Linked DNA regions of Homo sapiens. Changing the gene in region 1 together with any one later gene gives a genetic interaction. Each region holds a gene or a part of one and is shown on either strand. Other genes may lie near its edges. The genes, in order: PTEN, SUV39H1, RAD54L, ZC3H7A, ENO2, IFIH1 and SERPINB6.

Evidence for each region.
Region 2: changes in PTEN (region 1) and SUV39H1 impair growth when combined (synthetic growth defect), as found in Homo sapiens cells (one large-scale study listed by BioGRID).
Region 3: changes in PTEN (region 1) and RAD54L together harm fitness more than expected from each alone (negative genetic interaction), as found in Homo sapiens cells (one large-scale study listed by BioGRID).
Region 4: changes in PTEN (region 1) and ZC3H7A together harm fitness more than expected from each alone (negative genetic interaction), as found in Homo sapiens cells (one large-scale study listed by BioGRID).
Region 5: changes in PTEN (region 1) and ENO2 impair growth when combined (synthetic growth defect), as found in Homo sapiens cells (one large-scale study listed by BioGRID).
Region 6: changes in PTEN (region 1) and IFIH1 impair growth when combined (synthetic growth defect), as found in Homo sapiens cells (one large-scale study listed by BioGRID).
Region 7: changes in PTEN (region 1) and SERPINB6 together harm fitness more than expected from each alone (negative genetic interaction), as found in Homo sapiens cells (one large-scale study listed by BioGRID).

The regions. Positions count from the first base shown.
Region 1 is NC_000010.11:87,929,625-87,933,124, reverse strand, and holds part of PTEN (phosphatidylinositol 3,4,5-trisphosphate 3-phosphatase and dual-specificity protein phosphatase PTEN), read right to left. Parts: intron 2,080-3,500; coding exon 2,036-2,079; intron 113-2,035; coding exon 1-112. UniProt on the Homo sapiens protein: Dual-specificity protein phosphatase, dephosphorylating tyrosine-, serine- and threonine-phosphorylated proteins.
Region 2 is NC_000023.11:48,703,234-48,706,733, reverse strand, and holds part of SUV39H1 (histone-lysine N-methyltransferase SUV39H1), read right to left. Parts: intron 470-3,500; coding exon 323-469; intron 237-322; coding exon 107-236; intron 1-106. UniProt on the Homo sapiens protein: Histone methyltransferase that specifically trimethylates 'Lys-9' of histone H3 using monomethylated H3 'Lys-9' as substrate. Also weakly methylates histone H1 (in vitro).
Region 3 is NC_000001.11:46,261,263-46,264,762, reverse strand, and holds part of RAD54L (DNA repair and recombination protein RAD54-like), read right to left. Parts: coding exon 3,378-3,500; intron 1-3,377. UniProt on the Homo sapiens protein: Plays an essential role in homologous recombination (HR) which is a major pathway for repairing DNA double-strand breaks (DSBs), single-stranded DNA (ssDNA) gaps, and stalled or collapsed replication forks.
Region 4 is NC_000016.10:11,776,759-11,780,258, forward strand, and holds part of ZC3H7A (zinc finger CCCH domain-containing protein 7A), read right to left. Parts: intron 2,606-3,500; coding exon 2,408-2,605; intron 152-2,407; coding exon 1-151. UniProt on the Homo sapiens protein: May be a specific regulator of miRNA biogenesis. Binds to microRNAs MIR7-1, MIR16-2 and MIR29A hairpins recognizing the 3'-ATA(A/T)-5' motif in the apical loop.
Region 5 is NC_000012.12:6,920,889-6,924,197, reverse strand, and holds the end of ENO2 (gamma-enolase), read right to left. Parts: intron 2,618-3,309; coding exon 2,416-2,617; intron 2,143-2,415; coding exon 2,034-2,142; intron 1,855-2,033; coding exon 1,796-1,854; intron 1,669-1,795; exon of another isoform or gene 1,468-1,668; coding exon 1,398-1,467; 3' UTR 501-1,397; downstream 1-500. UniProt on the Homo sapiens protein: Has neurotrophic and neuroprotective properties on a broad spectrum of central nervous system (CNS) neurons. Binds, in a calcium-dependent manner, to cultured neocortical neurons and promotes cell survival.
Region 6 is NC_000002.12:162,284,185-162,287,684, forward strand, and holds part of IFIH1 (interferon-induced helicase C domain-containing protein 1), read right to left. Parts: intron 1-3,500.
Region 7 is NC_000006.12:2,965,068-2,968,567, reverse strand, and holds part of SERPINB6 (serpin B6), read left to right. Parts: intron 1-1,977; coding exon of another isoform or gene 1,978-2,168; intron 2,169-3,500.

The DNA.
Region 1 (3,500 bases):
ATTGCTGCAACATGATTGTCATCTTCACTTAGCCATTGGTCAAGATCTTCACAAAAGGGTTTGATAAGTTCTAGCTGTGGTGGGTTATGGTCTTCAAAAGGATATTGTGCAACTGTGGTAAAAAGATAACCTCAGAATAAGAAAAAAAAACTCTTGAATTTTTAATTAACAAGTAGGTAACTTTAGAAATGTTGCATACAAACTTAACAGGTATTTAAAAGAAACACTGGATTCCAGAGAAAAATAATGTATTGCTTAACTTTCTAATTGTTAAATAGAAAATAGTCTCTTGATAAGTCTTAAATATAATCATTAAGGAAGCCAGGTATTATTTTCCCCCATTTTATTCAGGAGGATATATTCTGGGAATTTACGCTATACGGACTGGTAGCATAGGTCACATATTAGAGGTAGAGCTAAACCCAAAATGAACTGTCACATGGACATTTCGTCAGGACTCTCAATGCAAAAGGAATAATACTATTTATAGTATTTATTTCATCATCACAAAACATATTCCAAAGACAGAATAGATTACTAATAGGATAAACTATGCAAAGAACTACATATTACATTTCATAAAATAAAAATGCTAAGTGTGTTATTTAAAGGTGGTCTTGCAAATGTTAGTGTTGTATACACATGTAATCATTAGGGAAGCCAAGTATTATTTTCCTCCATTTTCTGCAGGAGAATACATTCTGGGAATCTATGCTCAATGGACTGCAGCATAGGTCACATACCAGAGATATGTGAAGGCATACACCAAAGAAATTACTCACAAAATGTATATAATTGTTATCAAAGTTTCAGGTCTTCTCACATGAATTGTAAGAGTCCAAGACTTCTCTGTTCACTATAGTCAGAGTTGAGGTTTTTAAAAAAACTTGTTTAGAAACAGGACTATAGATATATCACTATTAATTGCTCTTAATAGTTTCTACCTTAGTTCCACTCTATTAAGATCCTTAAAAACCCTGGCTGATATTCAATGTACTAACCTGTGTCATCTAAATATGTGAGAAGTATGTCTTATATCTCCAATCAGGTGACTCATAATATGGTACAGGATATAATCAATTATCCTTTGGTGTGACAGGAGAGATCTTCTGGTAGACAATGACTATCATTATAAGGAGTCAGCAGGACAGCTTTCACTTAGTCATCTGCCTAACTTCATTTTCCCAGTGGTACACAAAAACCTCCAGGAAAATCTGTTAAATATCTGTTTAAAGCAAGATAAACCTCAACTAAAGCCTGCTTTGCTTAGTAAGCAACAGCCTAAATCCACCAAAAACAAAAACAAAAAAAACCCGTTCTTAGTAAACCTATACTAAATCTCAATCATTAGTGATTTAGAATTTTCAAACCATTTGTCTGAAAGTCCATTCTAGATTTTCAGGAGGGATCAATGGCAAATACATCAATAGTAGCTCATGGCACCCACTTTCTTTTTGACTATCACAGCAGCATCTGCCAAGCTTCTCAACTCTTCAGTTTTCTCATGGTTTAAAGTGTTAAGCCATGAGAACTGAGTTGTATTTCACAAATAAAAGTGAAAGTTTTTGTGGGCTCTGAGAATTAACTTATGTCTGAAGTAGAAACTCATTTAAAGCAGTTCCCTCCTCTCATCCATCAGACTCCTCTTATCAACATTTGTTATATCCTTTCCTACCTTTTATGTCATTCCTCAACACAGAAGAGTTAAGTAGTTCTGCTTTCTCCCTGTGATTGCTTACTATTAGACCAACTGCCTCAAATAGTAGGTAAACCCTCTCCTTATACTATTTTTAGTCTAGGAATTTTCCTAATTCTTAGTCTATGCTGCACTTTAGTCTTCCTGACAATATTAATAGCTTTATGCAATACTTTTTCCTAAAACACAACAGTAAAATTAAAATTTTTGAAATTTTTAAAGATAATTCTTAAATATGTATCTCACTCGATAATCTGGATGACTCATTATTGTTATGACAGTAAGATACAGTCTATCGGGTTTAAGTTATACAACATAGTACAGTACATTCATACCTACCTCTGCAATTAAATTTGGCGGTGTCATAATGTCTTTCAGCACAACTAAAAGAAAAGTTTAAAAGTGATATAAAGTTATCTTTTGCACTTAGGAAGAAAAAAAAGTACTAATACTAACAAACATTGCCTGAATCTTTATAATGTGACACATATTATGCTGTGTTTAACATTAATTATTTCATGTAATAACAAGAATTCTATTAAGTAGATACTGTTATCACCCCCATATTATAATAATAAAACCAAAGCTTAAAAGATTAAGTGTATGCAATTAGAGCTAATACATTTGCTTAAAAACTTGTGATGCCACTAATACAGAGTACTGTAAATTCAGGTGCTTCCATGCTTTCAAATTTCCTCTATGAAAAATCTGCATGCTATTGGAATATATTTTTAATTTTACAAGTACCTATAAACAACTGACTAGTTTCAATAGTATCTGTATCTCATAGTTAAGCATACATAATTCTCAAACTATTCTTCAAAAAGATATATGTTAAAAATAGTAAAAGCATAAGGACAGTAAAGAAAAACTGAATGTTGTTAATCTACTTGGCCAAATGCTTACTAATTTTTTTTTAAACCAGACCTTACTCCCTGTTGAAAAGCCAACGATCACCTTTTTCAACAGTCTCTCAGATTGCAAGTTTTAATTACAGTATGAGAGTAATGAAAGAATAAGTAAAATCAATACAGAATAGTAAAATGCTGACTTGTCATTACTAGAGTATGCTAATATTTGTCTTAATAGCAGTGATATGTTAGTATGTACTGGCTTTCTAATGATTAACAGGCCATGTTTACAAACAATAAAAGGCTCAGAAAGAGATCTTACATATCAGTGTGGTTAGCAGTACCCTGGTAACTCCAACTACTATGCAAAACAAATTTTTTAAAAATTACTTAAAATAAACTCTTAGCATTTTAAAACAAATAAAGGTCCATAGCTCCTTAACCTGCAATTTCAATATCCCAAAAGTTCAAAACATCTAAAATTTTCTCTTAAGTTTTATGGCAAACTCAACTACAGCAAATCCTGATCTGAAGTAATAAGATTGTACATAATATTTAATACACTTAGAGCGAAGAGTAAAACATTTCATTTCAGGTACTGACCCACACCCCACTGGGGTGTTTATGTAAAAGTATATTTATCTGTGCTACCTTTTGAAAACTAAAATTTCTGAAAATGGAAACATACTTGGCCCCAAGAGTTTCAAATAAGTGATTGTGAACCTGTATTGTACATTTAGAAACCCTGAAAAACATCTATATAGTTTCTTCTCTACCTTAAAGGTAATTCAAAACCAAATTCACATGAAGGTTTAACTAATTATAAATAAACTACAATCCATTGGTTTCTAACTGGTCAGACCTAAAATAAAACAACTTTCATACTACCACTCAAAACAAAACAAGCTTTTCCTTTTTAGTACAATTTAGTATATTGAGTTTTTCTAGAAAGA
Region 2 (3,500 bases), on another chromosome or scaffold:
CTAAAGAATTTTCCTTGGTTCTCTGAGTGACTGGTGTGCCTTTGGGAGGGGTCCTTGTGTCCCAAGTCACAGTGCGCCCCTGCCCCCAGTCCCTTGCCACCCCCACCTTGCATGTTGTAATCAAAGGTGAGCTCCTCGCCTGCCCGGATGGTTCTTGTGGCAAAGAAAGCGATGCGGGGCAGCCGCTCGTCAAGGTTGTCTATGAAGACGTTGTACACCTGCAGGTTGGGGTCACACTGGGCGAGAAAGAACAGTTGGGAGAGTGAGGAGGGGCTCCAGCCTGCCCCTCTCGACCCCTTGCCCGCCTGCCGGGGGTACCCACACTGTGGTTGACAAAGTGGGAGATGTTGCCATAGTAGGCGGCATCCACGGTGTACACGTCCTCCACGTAGTCCAGGTCAAAGAGGTAGGTGGCGCCCTGACGGTCGTAGATCTGGCCCCGCCGCTCTGCCTCCTCTGAGGTAATGATCTAGGGAAAGGGCCATGGGTAAGGGGAGATTGGCCGCGAAGTCTCAGGAAAGCCGGCACTGCTCCTGACTTCTGAAGGACAGGGAGCAGGAGGCACCCCTGCCCGTGGACACACATGGGCAGTGACGCAGAGAGTCTGTCGGCCCTTCCTGAGGAGCTGGGCCTCAGCTGGCAACTGCCTGGCCCGCCTCAGGCCTCTGGCTAGCAGGAGGAGTCCCTGGCGGTGAGTGCAGGCTGGCCTGGCTGCAGGGCCCAACTGGGGCCACGCGAGCACCTCCTGCCGCCACCCAGCAAGAGCTGCCCAAGAACCCCTGGAGCCTCCAGTGCCTTGGGACGGAGCAGGAAGGTGATCAGGAGAGACCAAAGCAAGGGCAAGAAAGAAAGTGACCCAGGGTGCCACAGGGAGAGATACTTACTGATCCAGGCAAGGGAGCCTGAGCCCATGCAGGACCCAGCAGGGAGGGCGTGGAGAGAGGGGAAGAAGAGACCCAGGCCATGGGGAAAGGGGGCAAGGGCCTCAAGACAAGAGAGGTGGAGGCAGAGGCAGAGGGAGGCCCAGGTTCAGAGAGCCAGAAAGAGGCTGAGGCCACACACTTCAGAGACAGCAGCAGAGGAGGAGGAAAGATGAAGGGAGAGCACAGTGAGAGAAGCTCTCCCTCGGCCCAGGGCTGCGCAGTGCCAACTGGTGCTTCAGACGGCAGTGGGTGCCTCCTCCCCAGCTGGTTCCCTACCTGTCCTAGGAAATGGGAAGCTTTGCTGCCATCCTAGCCCCAGCCTGTCCTTGCCTCCCAATCCACGCCAACAAATCTCCGGCCCCATGGCCCCTCTTCCCTGAGGCCAGCAACGGCAGCCTCCTGCCAATCCCCAAGCGTAGCTGACCAGGCCCTTCCCTGGGTAGGGGTCCCACTGTACCTCAGCCAAGAACAGTGCACAGCACACAGGAGACACATGGGGACTGCTGTTTACTTTGATTCTGCTTCCTGGCTTAGCAGCCTGTCCTCTGTCCAAGTGGCGGCCCTCCAGGTAGCTCCAGTACTCCCCCGCCACACTTCTTCCTTCCCCTCCCTTCTCCAGAGACCCCTCTCGGGCTTCCTTCCTTGCTCACCCTCATGTGGGCCGGTGACCATGCCCTTCTGACTTGGGAATCCATCTCCTTAGCTAGGATGGCCACACTGGTGTTCTCCCTGGCTGTCCCCTCAAGGCTGTGTTCCATGCCAAAGGCTGACTAACAATGCCTTGAGGAAACCAAGATTTACCCTGCCTCGGGCCACACTACCCACTGCCCCGTGCTCCAGTTCTGTTCCTTGAGGAACCTGGCTCCCTTGCCAGGGTTTTTATTGAGGCCTTCCTTGTGCCCAGTCCCAGCATGCAGGGCTCACGGTCTGATCAGGGAGACACAGGGACCAGGCCCGGTCCACTCTCAGGGGTCACAGGTGGGTAGGGGATACACAGGAACCAGGATTGGTCCCTGCCCTCAAGGGGTCAAAGTCTGGTCACAGAGAGACAGATTCACACACCCACAGTGTAAGACTGTGATCAGGAAACAGTGCTTAGGGCTTGAGGGGGAATGGAGAAGAGACGGATTCTCTAAAACGAGTTGCAGATCATAAAAGGGCTTTACCACCTGGTGGAAGAGTGGGGACTCTCTCCTAAGGGCCACAACATGAGGGTGGAATATGTCAAGATCAGTCTCCCTTCACCTCCTGGAGAACAGTCTTCCTTGTGGCATCAGCTCAAACAGATGGGACCTCTCTAGGCAGCCTTCCAAGCTTCCCGTTCCTCCCCTACCTCAGAAGCTGGCCACTTGTCTGATCAAGTCCTGGGATCAAAGGGCAGCCTCTCCCAGGCTCACAGGCCTAGTGGGTGGGGTATGAGCCATCTTTTTCACCGTAGGCCCTCCTTGAGCCAGGAGGAGTGCCCACATCCTTCCTAGTCTCCATCTTCATGCCTATTCTGCCACTACCTGCTCTCCCAGTCTCACCAGGAGTGAGTCATACTGCAGGCCCTCCAGGGCACAAACACTTCTTGGTTCCTTCTCATCTTCTTTTCAGTCCCATTCTCTAATGATTGGTCAACCCTGAAAGCTTGGGAACAGATGGGCCTGTCTCTGCTCCCTAACAGCTCTCCAGAATGAATGGAAAAGACAGGCTGTAAGCTGGCAGTTCCGAGAGGGTGCTGACGTGAATGGGAACTAGAAGACTTGGAGTCAGCTGCTGCTCTGCCCCCTCCTGGATATGGGATCCTGAATGTTCTCTCTGTGCCTGTTTCCTCAGCTAAAAAAAAAAAAAAAAAGCTACAGCCTGGCAGGGTACCAGTTTTAGATATTATTTGGGCCTTTATTTTTTTATCCATTGTACTACTTTTGTGATTTTAATCAAGTTATTCTACCTCTCTGGGCCTCAGTTTTCTCATCTGCAGAATGGGAATGACAGTGACAAAATCCCAACCTGACAGGGGCTGTTGTAAAGATCCATACAAGATCATGGACGTGAAAGGTGTTCCTGTTTCTGATAGGAGAGTGAGCAATGTTAGGAGTGGTTATGAGGACCAGTTATAAATGTAAGGCACACCCTTAATTTTATGTGCCCTTTACCAAGAAAGGAAAAACTGCTGTTAATTATAAATGATACACCATGATTTAATTAAGACATCTTCATTTCCGAGATGTTAAAATAGGAAGAAAATGCATGTTTTAGAATGGATAAAATAGGCTGGCATTGTCTCTTGGGTGAGGATGGGAATGTTCTGCAGGAACGTGAAAGTTCTGACCCAATGTGGGAGGCTGCAAAGGAGGGAAGGGCAGCTCCCGTGGAGGGAGCTCTTGGTACAGACTGTCAGTACATGTCCCAGCTGAAGAAGGACAGTAGATAGCATGGTGTGCAGATAGGCCCTTGATTCCGTAACACCCTGGCAGCATCTGGGACGGCACTACAGAATCAAGTAAATTAGAACTGCTGCAACGAAATGTATGACTATTACCCCAAGTAGGATAAATAAAAACTACAAATAGGACCCTATCCGGTCAGGCTGGG
Region 3 (3,500 bases), on another chromosome or scaffold:
TCACACCTGCATTCACATTCCAGCTTACTATGTACTCGCTAGGAGAACCTGGGCAAGTCACTACGCACTTCCCTGAGTTTGTCTCCTAATCTTTAAGATTGAGATGACGATGACGTCAATCCCTCTGCTATTTATACACTTGTACAAAGTGCTCCCATATATCCTCTCTTGATCTGTATCATATCCCTTTCAAGTAGCCCATGTGCCATCCACTCTACAGATGAAGAAACAATCTCAGAGCAGTCTCATCTGTGGAAAGTCACGCTTGTAAGTGGCAAAGCCAGAGCTGATCCCGTGTCTTTTGATTGAGGATCAAAGATTTTGTACATAGAAGTTATTATGAAAAACTGTGTTCCAGAGAAAAGCGTTACTGGGAGGAAGATGCTGTGGGAGCTGAGAACATGAAAGCCTGAAATGGCACCTTCCCTTTCCAGGGTCTGAACAGGACAAACCCTCTCCTTCCCTGGAGTAAGGTGACCATCTTTTCAGGACTTTTGGTTCCTCAGATCTCTGACAGTTGACAAAATAAAAGGTAAACAAGTAGAAAGGTAAACAGCCAAGGGGCTGCAGTGTGATAAGAGGCAGCCTCATCCCTTGTGCCCTGCACAGAGTCAGCTCATAAAACAGGACAGAGTGGGGAAGAAAAAAACACTAAGGAGTAGAAAAAGGCTGGGCACGGTGGCTCAAACCTGTAATCCCAGCACTTTGGGAGGCCAAGGCCGCAGATTATTTGGGGCCAGGAGTTCGAGACTAGCCTGGCCAACATGGTGAAACCCCATCTCTACTAAAAATACAAAAATTAGCCAGAGTGGTGGTGCACGCCTGTAATATCAGCTACTCGGGTGGCTGAGGCAGGAGAATTACTTAAATATGGGAGGCAGAGGTTGCGGTGAGCCAAGATCACGTCACTGCACTCCATCTGGACAACAGAACAAGACCCTTGTCTCAAAAAAAAACAAAAAGTAGAAAAAAATTTAGATGCTCCCTAATCCTCAAAGGCTCAACAGCTACAGCCTGCCTTCCTCTCCCACAATGCTTTGGACCTGGCTCCTGGCATAGTCCCCCTCCACAGTGATGAAGCAGATGTCAGGGCCTTGAACCACAGGGCAGTAACATGCATACCTCACCTCAACCTGGTAAGTTCCCTACTCCTACCAGGAAGTTGGGAGTTTGAAGACCCGCCAATGACTGACCAGAAAATAGCTCACAACTAGAAAGCATGGTACCCAAAAGCAAGCTTTTTCCCTCTGTCCCCTCTCTGAAGTTCCTCAGACAACTGGGCTAATCTACAGTACCCAGAGCTGAGCCTAGCCTGACAACTGGTTGACAGATAGGGCCAAGTCTTTCAGCCACCTCTCCACTAGAACCTCTGGGGTATACAAAGGAGGTTAACTCTCCCAAGAAGTTGCAAACAATGACTATAGCCTCAGGGTCGCCAAGCCCACTGGGAAGTCCTGGGAAATTCTCTATAGTAGGAAGCTCCCAGCCACCCTCACTGCTTCCTAAGTACTAGCCTCTCTATTGCCATTCACACATACTGGAAAAGGCCAGGAAGTAACTACGGCCATATTCCCTTAGTTCCAGAAACAAGAAACAAGAAGTCAACACAAACTACTACTACAAGGTGTATGGACTTTCTTATCTCTGCTTTTGTTCTTGCAAGTACCCCCAGCCTGGAATAACCACCAAGAGCTTACGTTTGCCAAGGCCTTATGACATACCAGGCACTGCGATAAGAGCTTTTTCTTAATAATTTCATTTAATCCTCACAATAATCCTATGAGGCAGATATTATCACCCCATTTTACTGATGTAGAAACAGAGGTTCAGCTGATAAAGTAACTTGTTGAAGGTCACACTGCTGGTCAGTGGCAGAGCCAGGATACAAATAAAGGTCTCTAACTCTAGAACCTGTTCCCTGTGAAAGGAAAACAAAATCTCAGGACCCCAAACTATGCCAAAGGGAAAAGCTAAGCTTGGGAACTAGTCAAGCAAAAAAATGTCTTTCCTTTTGTTCCTAAACAGATAGCTGCAGATAGAACGCCATGCCTCTCCCCAGGTGGCCTCCCTCACCCTGACAATGTAAAAAAACAGCTCATCTTTACAAGCAGGGGACAAAGACAAGACTAGAAATCCTCCCTCCCAGACAAATGTGTATTTGACTTCTTCCTCTACTCTTTATTTACTTAACTGTATGTAAAATCAGATTTATTGAGCTGAATGCATAACTGATGGCTCCTCTTTCCCTCCTGCCTGCTCTTGCCCCTTTATGCATATTTGTGTGGTGTTGTTTTTTGAGAAAGGGTCATGTGTGTCTGTGTATATGTGTGTTTTTTGGTTTTTATTTTGTTTTTTTGAGACAGAGTCTTGCTCTGTCACCCAGGCTAGAGTGCAGTGGCATTATCTAGGCTCATTGCAACCTCCACCTCCCGGGTTCAAGAGATTCTCCTGCCTCAGCCTCCTGAGTAGCTGGGATTACAGGCACCCACCACCACGCTCGGCTAATTTTTGTAGTTTTAGTAGAGACACGGTTTCACCATCTTGGCTGGTCTCAAACTCCTGACCGCATGATCCGCCCGCCTCAGCCTCCCAAAGTGCTGGGATTACAGGTGTGAGCCACCGCGCCCGGTCATATGTGTGTTTTGAGACAGGGTTTCACACCCCATCACCCAGGATGGAGTGCAGTGGCGCAATCTCAGCTTACTTCCCGGGCTCAGCTGATTCTCCCACCTCAGCCTCCTGAGTAGCTGGGACTACAGGTGCACCACCAAACCTGACTATTTTTATCTTTTTTAAGTAGAGGTGGGGTTTCACCATATTGCCCAGGCTGGTCCCAAACTCCTGGGCTCAAGTGATCCACTCACCTCAGCCTCTCAAAAAGTGCTGGGATTACAGGCGTGAATCATCGTGGCCAGCCCCCCTTTAAATATTGAAGTCCTCAAAAACCTCTTTGGAAAAAGTACAGGCTACAGATCCTACTTTGGCTTGTGTCTCTTTTTCCCCAGAGCATCCTCAACCTTGGCAAAATAAATCTCTAAATTGAGACTTGTCTCAGACACTTTCTGATTTATATCCTCTAAACATTGCCACCCACCCTTCAAGGTCCTTCTTTAGTCTAGGAATACTATCCGGAGGCAACAAAGCCAATCAGCCCCCAGTATCTCACTCTCCTCAGGGTTCTAAGCATTGTTTCAGCCCTCTTTTGGCAGACAGTATCTTGTATTTTGGTATCACAGGCTCTCCCTGTCACTTGTCTCCAAGGCAGCATCCTGTCTTCAGCATTCCCCAGTGACTAGCACAGCCCTTGGAAGGCAATACTCAGTGAAGAGATTTTGACAGATTTTCTCCTACCACCCAGACTGCTGAGAGTCAAGTACCTCGTCACATATGACCAGACCAACACTTCCTTTCTGGAGGACTCCAACATGAAGGCGGAAGGTCTCATAGGAAATGATGAGGATGGGAGAAGACACCCTGGCTCCACGCTGGTTCATGAATCC
Region 4 (3,500 bases), on another chromosome or scaffold:
CTGCTAAGGAGCACTTTGCTACAGCATCGTAAGCCTTTTTGTATCTTCCTAAATCACTTAAAGCCTTAGATTTCCGATACAGAGCTTTGCAGTTACTGGCATTTAAACTGAGGACTATATTGCAGTCCTCCAAAACTTTATCATGGAAACCCTGGTGTGTAAGACCAAAGAATAAAGTCAGCAATCAAACAATTCATTTCTTGCACTGAGGCCTTCCTGTAATAAAAACAAATTAATACCCCATCCTATTACCCTCCCTCTAAACTCCAAGTTAGCAGTATTACTTTTATTTTTTAAATTATTTTATGAAATTTCAAATACAAAAAAGTAGAAAGAATATCATGAATACCCATGTACACACCATCCAGGTCAGACAAATGCTAATATTTGGTCAGAAAGTCCCCAGATCTTCAAGAAATAAAGCTTTCCAGACCTAACTGATGTCCCCATGTGTCCCTCTCCTATTCGCTCCTCTGTAGTTACCCTTTGCTGGAGCACATTAAGATGTCAAACAGAAACGTAACTCCAAACAGCTAACTGATAAGGAATATATTACCCAAAACAAAATAAATAAACAATGAATGCTCTTTAACAAAGAGCTAGGTGACAACACGGATATTTTTCTTAAATTCATGGTTATATTTTACCGAGTATCCACAGTGAAAATTAAAAGCACTTCAGGTTGGGCACAGTGCCTCACAGCTGTAGTCCCAGCACTTTGGGAGGCCGAGGTGGGTGGATCACCTGAGGTCAGGAGTTCGAGACCAGCCTGGCCAACATGGTAAAAACCCCATCTCTACTAAAAATACAAAAATTAGCCAGGCGTGGTGGCGGGTGCCTATAATCCCAGCACTCGGGAGGCTGAAGCAGGAAAATCACTTGAACCCAGGAGACAGAGGATACAGTAAGCCGAGATTGTGCCACTGCATTACAGCCTGGGCAACAGAGTGACACTCCATCTCAAAAATTTAAAAAAGGTGGCCAGGCGTGGTGGCTCATGCCTGTAATCCCAGCACTTTGGGAGGCTGAGGCGGGCAGATCACCTGAGGTCAGGAGTTCGAGACCAGCCTGACCGACATGGAGACACCCCGTCTCTACTAAAAATACAAAATTAGCCAGGTGTGGTGGTACATGCCTGTAATCTCAGCTACTCGGGAAGCTGAGGCAGGAGAATCTCTTGAACCCGGGAGACGGAGGTTACGGTGAGCCAAGATTGTGCCATTGCACTCCAGCCTGGGCAACAAGAGTGAAACTCTTGTCTCAAAAAAAAAAAAAAAAGTTTTAAAAGGAAAAAAAGAAAAAAAAGCACTTCAAAAGCTTTTAAGCTTAAAAATGTGAAAATCTAGTGTGAATTCCTTTGAAGACTAATTACTATTTCTTGATTTAAAAAAACACTCGCCAGGCACGGTGGCTCACGCCTGTAATCCTAGCACTTTGGGAGGCTGAGGCGGGCAGATTGCCTGAATTCAGGAGATCGAGAACAGCCTGGGCAACACAGTGAAACCCCATCTCTAACAAAATACAAAAAATTTGCTGGGCACGGCGGCATGCGCCTGTAGTCCCAGCTACTCGGGAGGCCGAGGCAGGAAAATTGCTTGAACCCAGGAGGCGGAGGTTGCAGTGAGCCGAGATCGTGCCACTGCACTCCAGCCTGGGTGACAGAGCGAGACACTGTCTCAAAAAAAAAAAAAAAAAAAAAAACACTCGTAAGAGTGTTTTTTACCAAGAGTGTTTTACAAGATCAACTGGATCTTGACTAAGATGTTAACTGTGAACAGGGATACCTGAAAGACACACTGACCTGTGAAGACCTGTATCTTCCCTGGATGACTTTTTTATAAGCAGACACACCTTCAAAAGCCATACTCAAATGGGAATCATCAAGGACCAATAACTAAGAAACAAATTATTTCTTAAATCCCTAACCTTCTGTCCAAAGCTAATTTTTATTTTTTTATTTTATTTTATTTTTTGAGACGGAGTCTTGCTCTGTCGCCCAGGCTGGAGTGCAGTGGCACAATCTCGGCTCACTGCAAGCTTCGCCTCCTGGGTTCAAGCGATTCTCCTGCCTCAGCCTCCCGGGCAGCTGGGACTACATGCACACGCCACCATGCCCAGTTAATTTTTTTATTTTTAGTAGAGACGGGGTTTCACCATATTGGCCAGGCTGGTCTCAAACTCCTAACCTCATGATCCACCCACCTTGGCCTCCCAAAGTGCTGGGATTACAGGCGTGAGCCACCGTGCCCGGCCAATCCAAAGCTAATTTTTAAAAGCCTCAAGCCACTCCAAAAGCAGGTAATATGACTTTCTTAAAAACTTAAGAAATTGACTTTTTATTAATGTACTAAGTCATTGAAAAAATTCTTTTCACTCTAGAAACATCATTTTAAAAATTACAACTCACCATATTAGAATAGCAGGCAATACGATTTATATATAGTTTTTCAATTATTTCTTTGGGGATTAAAATTTCTTCAGATTTTGCATAATCAGCTATATTCAAGGCTTCCGTGTACTGGCTTATCGAGTTGTTCCAATCATGTTCCCGATAAACGTCATTTCCTTCATTAAAAAGATTTCTCACGAGAGCACGCAAATATACCTAAAAAAAAGAAAGTTACCACTTGAAGCCTTTTATCAAACAAGATATGGTATAAGTAAATTTTAATTTTTATACCTAAAACTTCACAGGAAACAATGTGACAGAACAGCAGCATTGCTCTAAGAAATTGTGAGATGCAGCCCAAGTCACTGCTATCTCAGCTAGGGATTGAATCTTGCTTGCTTTTTCAAGGGGAAATTCAATTTCTCACTATTAAGAAAAATGCAGCAAAGTACCTTATAAATATTTGTTCACATCTCCAATTCTGTGCCCGCTAGAGAAACCAAGTGGAAGCCCCAAGTCAAAGAGAATGAATAGTTTAAGGCTTTTGAGCAGTATTTCCAAATTGCCTTCCAAAAAGGCCATGATGAAAAATGTTTCTAGTGGTTTACTTTATAGCACCCATACACACTAGGTAGTGTGTGTGTGTGTACACGTGTGTGGGTACCCGTGCACATATATGTAAAATCTACCAATTTCTAGGTGGAAAATGGTATCGTTTTGTGTTTATTTATTTTTTTTAATGGTATCCTCTTTGTATGTGCATGTCTTTACCAGTGAAGTTGAACTATTCCACATTTTTACGGACCCCTTGTATTTCTTTTTCTGTAAATTGCTCAGGTCATTTACTGATTTGGGGGGAGGGGGATGTTAAACTTTTTTCTTATCAAGTAAGTATACACATTCTTTTAGCATGTATAAAAGTTTGTCATTTTCCTTCATTATTTCTATCACGCTTTAGTTTAGTTCTTTTTTTTCTTTTCTTTTTTTTTTTTGAGACAGAGTCTTACTCTGGCACCCAGGCTGGAGTGCAGTGGCACGATCTCGGCTCTCTGCGACTTCACCTCCTGAGTTCAAGTGATTCTCGTGTCTTAGCCTCCCGAGTAGCTGGGAT
Region 5 (3,309 bases), on another chromosome or scaffold:
TGAGGACTCTGTTTCCTTAGGTCCTTCCGTATACTACCCCCGGAACCATTCTTCCTTCCCATTTCCCCATCTTGCAGTGGGTGATGGCCATGAAGTCCTGTTCCATTCGAGAACCAGCCAGGGTTTTGTTGGCAGAGGCCCAGTACAGGAGCTGCTCCAGTCCACAAGCCCTTTGGATATGAAAACACCTTAGACCCCCTTTCCCCCAAAATGCGCGTGCACACACACACACACACAAAATATTTTATGCTTTTAGGGGCTCTTGAACCCCTTAATTCACCTGCGTCTGGGAGCCAAGCCTTCTGCTAAGAAAGCAGGGGCCACATGCACCCCACCTAGCCAGAATGGGGTAGGCAGTGCCATCATCTCGGCCATATTTGTTCAGTTTGTCTTCCTCTTTTTGTGCCCCCCCAGCTCTGCTATCCAGTTTCACCAGCTTCCAGGTGCTCCATCTTCTCTCCCCTCATAGGGACTAGAGTAAGACTCCTTAGACACAACAGTGCACTGATTCAGACTTTAATGGAGGTGCTCATTTCAATGCCACAGAGGTGGTGGCAACTGTGGAACGTGGCATGGGGAGTGAGAGGTTGCTCTGGTGCAGCTGGAGGAAGAACAGGGAACCTAGGGTTGGGGAGAGATGTATAGAGGAAAACTCCCCCAGGCACACAGCCTCCGCTCTGGACCAACGCAGGCTTCAGTGAGTACACACAAAGGAACTGATGTCAAGGCCCTTTCTATGACCCTTCCCATTCTAGCAAGACCTCCCACCCCAGTCATCTTGGGATCTACAGCCACATGAAATACAGACACATCGTTCCCCCAAGTCAGGCCAGTTTTAGGCCATTGAGTTATGGGGAAATGATTAATGGGATGAATGAAAAACAAATAAAATAAATAAATAAATAAATACACTAAAGCCTTATTAGCCAGGCGTGATCACATGCCCAACACTCCCCTCCATCCCAGCACTATGCACAGTTCACGGCTCATATGCAAAGTGGAAGACACGTGGGACAAGAGCAAAGCACAAGTGACACATGGTCCCTCTCTAACACCTCAGCACACCAACCCTGACGCTCCCATCACAGATGCTGATCATTCTTCCACGGACCCCCTTTTATAATAATCCTCATTCACATTTCTAGTTTCTGAGGGAAGAGAGAAAGAGAAAGGAAGAAGTGGAAAGTGCGGAACCCCAATGAGTAGGGCACAGAAAGGAGGGCGAGCAGAGACAGCAAGAGGTCAGGTAAGCCAAGGAGCAGCGGAGCAGGTCAATCAGGGAAGTTCTGGGCACCCTGGGGCTCAGGGGATCTCAGGGGGTGAACTATCACAGATCAGGACAGCAAGGTTCCAGGAGGATGAGACAGAGGTTCCACGTCTCCAGGCAAGCAGAGGAATCACAGCACACTGGGATTACGGAAGTTATGTCCGGCAAAGCGAGCTTCATCCCCCAGCTCTTCCTCAATTCTGAGAGAGATGAACCACAAAGGAAGTGGTCAGGGATGCAGGAGGATCCTGCTTCTCTCTCTAGGGGTCCCCCAGACTCCAACCACCCCCACACCACCTGCTTTTGTGTCCTGCCCCAAGGCTTAGCATTCCCTGGCTTTCCCATGTGATCTCTGGGATTTGTCAATCAGGCCATCAATAAACCCAGGAAGCAAAAACCAATATTATCTGTTGGACTGTTATCCAGGAAATGGACTGTTATCCAGGCCCTTGGTGCTACAGATGGTCTGGCAGGCAAATGGGGCCTTTAGCCATCTGGGCCAGGGGCTCCCACCCCAGGGACCCTCACCTCATGAGCTGGTTGTATTTAGCCAGACGTTCAGAACGGCACGGGGCACCAGTCTTGATCTGAAACATTTCAAAGGATTTGCAGCTCAGTGACTGCCCTCTCACCCCTGAAAGGAAACTTCTGCTCTCCTGAAACTCCCCTGACACCCTCAAACACCTGGAAGGAGAGACCAGGTGGGTGAGCTAGAAATACCAATCCCACAGAGAGTTCTCTTCACTCACCAGGCTGCCTCACTCACCTGGCCTGTGCACAGCCCCACCACCAGGTCAGCAATGAATGTGTCCTCAGTCTCTCCTGAGCGATGACTCACCATGACCCCCCAGCCATTCTCCTGGGCCAGCTTGCACCTGTATCCACACACAGCACTGATTCTCCAGCTCTCACACTGGGCACTCTCTTCCCAGCCCCAACCTTGGTCTATGTCAGGAAACATCTAGGGGAAAGCTATCTGGGAGGGGAGCAGAGAATCAGGGGTGGAGGGGCAGAGGTGAGAGAACTGTGAGGATGATTCCAGGTTCCCCGCTCTCTTTGGCACCCCTGGGTAGAATTAGGCTGGAGCACTTGCAAAAGGAGTCTTATAGAAACGAGGACCACACAGGAGAGGGCCAGAAGTCACTCACGCTTGGATGGCTTCAGTGACCGAGCCGATCTGGTTGACCTTGAGCAGCAGACAGTTGCAGGCCTTTTCTTCCACTGCCCGCTCAATACGTTTTGGGTTGGTCACTGTCAGGTCATCACCCACAATCTGGATCCCTACATTGGCTGTGAACTTGGACCAGGCAGCCCAATCATCCTGGTCAAATGGGTCCTCAATGGAGACCACTGCAGAGAGAGCATGGTGGGGAGGGGGGAGGTGTTCATCTTCCCTGGGTCTCTACATCAGGCAGGAACATGCCCCTTTATTCCCTGAAATGGACAGGCCCTTGGTTAACTACACCTGCTCATCCTTGCTAAGACAAATCCCCCCAGTGTAAGCCTGCCCTAACTGATTCTTAACTTTTTTTTTTTTTTTGACAGAGCCTCATTCTGTCATCCAGGCTGGAGTGCAGTGGCACAATCTCAGCTCACTGCAACCTCCACCTCCCCAATCAAGTGATCCTGCCACCTCAGCCTCCTGAGTAGCAGGGACTTTAGGTGTGTGGCACCACACTCAGCTAATTTTTAAAATTTTTGTAGAGATGAGGTCTCACTGTATTGCCAGGCCAGTCTCGAACTCCTGGATTCAAGCAGTCCTCCTGCCTCGGCTTCCCAAAGTAATGGGATTACAGGCATGAGCCACCACGCCTGGCTCCTGATTCTTATTTCATAAAACCTTACATGGAGAGGCCAGGCACAGTGGCTCATGCCTGTAATCCCAGCACTTTGGGATACTGAGGTGAACGGATCACTTGAGGATAGGAGTTCCCTGGCTAACATAGTAAAACCCCATCTCTACTAAAAATACAAAAATTAGCCAGGCATGGTGGTGCACGCCTGTAATCCCAGCTACTTGGGAGGCTAAGAGAATCGTGCAG
Region 6 (3,500 bases), on another chromosome or scaffold:
TTCCACAAAGCCGTTCTTGAATCATTTTCTAGAAGTATTCTTTCCATTTCATTTATGCAAGACAGAAGGCTTCTGAGGAAAAGAATGGAAATTAAGTTTAGTGGAAAGAGACAGCATGATGCAGAGGGAAGAAAGCCCTGAAAACAGCTACTCCAGCCACTTACTTCTTTGTACCTTGGACAAGGTCTCAATCATCTTAATGCTCTCAATTTCCAGATTAATAAAATGAGGATAATGTTAACCTATTATAGGGTTGTGAAAATTAAATGAAATAGAGGATGCTGTATTGTCAGTACTAAAACTTCCACGATATTTCACCAATCCTTTTATTCTAGAAGGAGGGTGCAGTGGCAAAGGAAGACCAGTGGACTCAGAAGATAAAAGTTCGTGTCTCATTTCTGCTGTTTCTTGGCTGGATGATCCCTGAATTGCCAATTAAAGTCTTGAAACTTCAGTTTTCTGATGGGAAAAAATGAGAATAATAAAGACTACCTTATGGGGTTGCTGTGTAGATTTAATGAGATAATATATCTGAGAGTGCTTTATAAAGTGCAATAAAATATTAATTATCATATTATCAACATATATCTCTCATCTTTCTTCTAGACTGTATATTTCGTGAGGACAAGATCTACATTTGATTTGTCTTTAAATACACTCATGCTGAATGATTTAATTAAGAATCTCTGTATTATGGAGTGACATTGCACCACAAAATTCTGCCCATAAAAGGTGAGTCAAAAATCTTCAAAAGAAGCCGCACCTTCTGATGTACAGAACAAAAAGAAGTTGTCACAGGAGATAGCAGATGCTGGAAATCCTGATACTCGCTCTGGGTGGTGTTGACTTCCTACTGAAGGACACAGAGAAAGCCAGATGCAAGTCTGACATGGCTAATTGGGAGGTGTGTGGTCCTCTTGGAGCCTTTTCTTGAGATGTGACAGAGTGCCTGCCAAGACTAATCAAACCCAACTGCTACCCACTTCTGCTGAATCATATGGGGCTGCATTGCAGCATCTGAAGGAACCTGGGATTTATCTCTCATGATGTTGAAGCCCTAGATAGGAAATGGAAAGTCTGGGAACACAGGTGGTGTTTTCATTTCTCTCTGCATTCGAAGGCTATAACTTTGGAAAGGACGGAGGAAGGGAGATGAAAGTAAATGGTGTTAGAGAACAGGATTTCTTTTTTCTAGATCAAGGGTAACAATACCTTGTTGTTGGGCCAAACACAAGATTCAGGTTACTTAGACTTACTGGGCCAGAGGTGTTCTGACTCAATCAAAAAGAATTAAAACTGAAATTAATTTAAAATTCAAAAAGATGGTATAGTAAACAATTATGACATAGATGGAAGAATTAGTGGAGGGATTTCTAGTAATTCTAAGGAGAAAAACAATAGAAAAGCAATAAGGAATTAGAGTCAAGTCCCCAGGTGTCCACACAACAATGCAGTGAATGTGAATAATTAATGAGGATAAATTAATATTTAAACATAGCCATAAATGTGCATTCCGAAGAATCATGTAGATCCAATGCAATGAAAGATTCCTGGCTAGAATATAGCATTGAGAAGAGAAGGGAATATTATAGAAAGGAAGATGCATCAGACACATACAAAAATATGAGACTTGAAAAGATCAATAGTTAAAGAAATAAACCTAAGTATTTGAATTTAGGCTCAGAAACTGACTGCACAAAAATAAATTAAGAATGTTCTAGTTTAAGAGATTTTCAAATAAAAAGGAACTGAGGATTTTGATTCTATGACAAGGTCCAGATAAGTCTGTGGATGCCAGAGGCAAATGCGGTCATAAGCTGGGTGTCATATCTCATGTCTCCTACGCTCTGCACTGGTATGATCTTATCTGTAGTATTTTGCCCAACTCTGGACACCGCATTTAAGAGTGTCCCAGAAAAATGTCTGAAGGAGTATGAGCACTAGGAATGATGACAGGTTTAGAAACCATGTTATATGGAAAACAGTTAAAGGAACTGTGGACATTTATTCCAAGGAACAACAAAAAAAAGTAACTTAGGAGCCACATGATGCTGCCTTGTCTATGTGAAGGGCTGTCATTAGGCTGGAGAATTAGGACTTCGTGTGGTTGCAGAGGAAGGAACTCTAACCGGTGATTGTGGGATTCCAGAGAAACAGATTTGGATGAATACAAATAGGGCTTTCTAAGAGTGTCAGTGTCTTGTTAGTAGGGGGACCTCCTTGATATTAGGAAGTTACCCTGCAGAAGTGAGAGAACCACTCTGCAAAGGAAGAAAGCTGAATCTCGAAGCCCCTTTTCAACTCTATTAGCCTATGTCCCTGTGACCAGATAAGGGAAATAAAGGAAGTAGATGAATTAAAACTAACTCCTAGGTGTGGGGGCTGCATGCTTTGGAGGAGGTGGTATTACTCACAAAGAGACAGGTAAATGGGGAAGAGGAGCCTTTGGGAGGGTAGATGGTGAGGCTGAGTTTGAGAAAATGGCAGATGCTCAAATGGTTTCAAAATTATCAGTTTAAGTAGCTTTGAATCCAGTTAACTTGGTTCTTTTCTTTGGATTTGGCACTTAAAAGCCTCCCTGGTTATGTTACTTAGTTTCATGAGTTATGAAGGTGAAGAGAAAGGAGCAGGAGAAAGCTAGTATTTAAGAGTAAAAGCAGGAGTCATTACTAGGCCATATATAATCCAATTGAAATTTCAGAGCAGGGTAGTTATTATTTTGTTCATTTTGCAGATGAAGAAATTAAAGTTAGAGAAGTTACTAATTTGTCTAATTCAAAGTACCGGTAGGTAGAAATAGGATTCAAACCTATTTCATTTAAAAAAATAATATCCTGTACAAAGGGAATACATATGCAAGTCTATCGGCAAACAAATTTGAATGTGTCACCATTACCAGCAAAATAAATAAAAGTGTTTTAATAGTAAGTATACAAGTATAAAGGAGAGCTCTTTGGACTTAGCAGATGCACACAAAATGCATTTGGAACTACATGATAGGAATCATTCAAATCATGGATTCTAAGTACTGAAAAACAGGATGTAACTAAAACTTTTAGCATAATAGAAATAAAAAATAGAATATTTTACAGTCTACTGCTTTTTTTTATAAAGGAATAGATAAGAACAGAAAAAAGACTTTCTGATCAAGGAAAAGTATGCTCATTTTTATTCCATAAAATAGTAAATATTCATATCCCCAATTTGTATATTTATAAATTAATAAACTGTCATTTATCTGAATAAAGCTCAAATGACTAGATTTTGTTTTACGGTGAAGCAGACATATTTACTTATGAAGATGGCCTTCAAATACCCTAAGATATAAATTATTGAAGGAAAACTTCAGTTGCATTTAATGTAATATGTGTATATTTTATATATATATATGTATACTTCTTGAGCATTTTAAAATCTATTTAACTTGATGTAGATACCAAACCTTCACTTAATTTTATCTCCAAACCACATTATATGTATTCTGGAGAAAGAGGACTTGC
Region 7 (3,500 bases), on another chromosome or scaffold:
GTATAGAAGGCAAAATGGAATCAAATATCATGATGAAAAGTGTAAATGAGGGAATAAGGTCAGAAGAGAACATTCATTTATATGATTTCTTCTTTTTTTTTTTAACCTTTTAAACCTCTATTTAGGTTCAGGATACATACGCAGGTTTGTGACATAGGTAAACTCATGTCGCAGGTTGTTGTGCAGGTTATTTCATCCCCCAGGTACTAAGCCTAGTACCCAATAGTTATTTTTTCCTCTCCCTCCTCCCACCCTTCACCCTCCACCCTCTGATAGGACCCAGTGTTTGTTGCTCCCCTCTTTGTGTCCACGTTCTCATCATTTAGCTTCCACTCATAAGTGAGAACATGCGGTATTTGGTTTTCTGTTCCCTGCGTGTGTTTGCTAAGGATAATGGCCTCCAGCCCCATCCATGTTTCTGCAAAACACATGATCTCATTCTTTTTTATGGTTGCATAGTATTCCATGGTGTATATGTACCACAATTTCTTTATCCCATCTGCCATGCATGGGCATTTAGGTTGATTCCATGTCTTTGCTATTGTGAATAGTGCTGCGGTGAACATTCGCGTGCGTGTATCTTTATGGGAGAATGATTTCTATTCCTCTCTCCTCTGGTTGTATACTCAGTAATGGGATTGCTGGGTTGAATGGTAGTTCTGTTTTTAGCTCTGAGGAATCGCCACACTGCTTTCCCCAATGGTTGAACTGTTTTACACACCCACCAGCAGTGTGTAAGTGTTCCCTTTTCTCCACAACCTTGCCAGTATCTCTTAATTTTTGACTTTTTAATAATAGCCATTCTGACTGGCGTGAGATGGTATCTCATTGTGGTTTTGATTTGCATTTCTCTAATGATCAGTGATACTGAGCCTTTTTTCTTATGGCTGTTGGCTGCATGAATGTCTTCTTTTGAAAAGTGTCTGTTCATGTCCTTTGCCTTCTTTTTAATGGAGTTGTTTGTTTTCTTCTTGTAAATTTGTTTAAGTTCCATATAGATGCTGGATATTTGACCTTTGTCAGATGCATAGTTTGTGAATATTTTCTCCCATTCCGTAGGTTGGCTGTTTACTCTGTTGATAGTTTCTTTTGCTGTGCAGGAGTGCTTAAGTTTAATTAGATCCTATTTGTCAATTTTTGCTTTTGTTGTGATTGCATTTGGCATCTTTGTCATGAAATCTTTGCCTGTTCCTATGTCCAGAATGGTATTGCCTAGATTGTCTTCCAGGGTTTTTTATAGTTTTGGCTTTTACATCTAAGCCTTTAATCCATCTTGAGTTGATTTTTGTACATGGTGTATGTAAGGAAGGGGTCCAGTTTCAGTCTTCCAGAGCAGAACTTTCTAACTTGTGTGTGGGTGTTGTGCCCTGGGCAGGTTAACAGATCCCTCCAACTCGAGGAGTCTGGGTGGCTGGAGCTCTGCACTGGTCACCTTTGGGGTGAGTAGCCTGGCCCCAAAGTGACATACAAACATCATTTTCTGTGTGTGTCACAGCCTGGAGAAAGGTGAGAAGTCCCAGATGATATCAGTCTAAGAGTTTTGTACTTGACAGAAAAAGAGAACAAAGAGCCAGTCTGGAGGAAATCAGCAAGTGCCTTACATTTTTTTCCCAAGCTAGGCTTGGTGGCTCATGCCTATAATCCCAGCACTTTGGGAAGCCAACGTGGAAAGATAGCTTGAGGCCGGGAGTTTGGGACCAGCCTCGGCCACCGAGCGAGACCCTGTCTCTACAAAAAATAAAAATGAACTGGGCGTGGTGGTGTGCACCTATCATATCTAGTCTTTGGACTAGAAAAATCTAAAATGGTTTGGTAAGACTTTGCTGTTGCTTTAAAGCAATGGTCCCCAACCTTTTTGGCACCAGGGACCAGACTGGTTTTGTGGAAGACAGTTTTTCCACTGATAAAGTTGGGGGTATGGTTTCAAGATAAAACTGTTCCACCTCAGATCATCAGGCATTCGATTCTCATACGCAGCATGCAACCAAGATCACCACGTGCACAGTTCACCGTAGGTTCACTCTCCTACAAGACTCCAACGCTGCCACTGACCTAACAGGAGGTGGAGCTCAGGCGGTGATGTTCGCTCACCTGCTGCTCACCTCCTGCTGCGTGGCCCAGTTCCTAACAGACCACAGACGGATCTGCTGGGGACTCCTGCATATAAAGTAAGTGTGTTTGGAGGGAAAGTAACTAATTTAAAGAGATTCCCACCAGCCAATTAGAACAAGAAGAAAAAAAAACATCAGCAAATTGAAATATATTGTTTGTAAAAAGCCCAAGCTCATTAATAAGTTCAGATGAGGCAAACAAGATGAGCCTTAAAAAGGCACAAAAGAATTCAGTAATGTTTGCACTGTGTCTAGGATTGCTATGGAAAAAGTTTAGTTATTATAGCTTCCTGGGCTAACAAACACAGTAGTTGTAAAAACCAACTTAAAGGCCTAAACATTCAACAAAAAGACCAAGTTATACCATACAACACTGGTCTATGCAACTCAGATAGAGGAAAACTCCGTATTTCATTTTAAGGAAGGACATCAGGCTACAAGACACTGAAATTTGGTGTTTGGTTGAGGCCTTATAAAATCTCAGTGAAGGCAGGATTGGAGCTCAAAGCTGCCCTAACTAGTCAGATATGCTTGGCATCAAAGAGTGTGTGCCCTGTGCTGAGAAACTGCTTTGATGCACAAAGACCATGAACCAGGGAGCCCCACCCTGTTTTTACAGAAAGGGATGATCCCTTAGGATTTAACCCCATAAGATTAATTTTCCCCATAGGAAACTGTTAAAATAAGCATTAGTGTTACCTTAGGAAAGGAATAGGAAAATATAACAAAGATAAAATAATTAAATCTGTGATATTAATGAATAACTTTTGCTAGACATAAGTACAGGTATAGAAATAAGTTTTGTAATCATTGTACTGTTTGAAAGTCTTAGGAGAGGCTAGCTTACTAGATTTATATGTCTTGATTTATCAGATTTGTAGAAGTTCAAAAGTCTACTAAGGTTTGTGCAATTTGTAAGTTTGCATAAAGCATTAAAAAATTAGACATATTAAAATATGTCATCAACACTTAAATAAGAAAAAATAATTTCTTTGCCCTGTAAGCAATGTGCTGTGTTTGAGAAAAAAAATTAGTCTGACCAGCCTGCCAAACTATAAATTGGCCATGTATTATAGTAGGGAAACTTGTCCCCGTCTATGAACATTTCTCTTCGGCGTGAAAGTCGCGCATGCTCAGCAGCATGGTGACAGACGGAGGGAGAGGAAAATGCAGCTGGTAGATTATTCCTTGTGTCGAAGCATATGAAAAAAGTACTGAAAGGGTTTGACTGACCTGTAGAACATTTGGGGAGAATTTGAAAATACATAGTACATAGAAAACTAAGGAAAGGGGGGAAAGGCACTATTAATATAAGGCAAATCAGCATTACATAAAAAGGAAATGGGTTCCCATCCCACCACCTGGCTTAGCATCGAATGCTATTTAGTG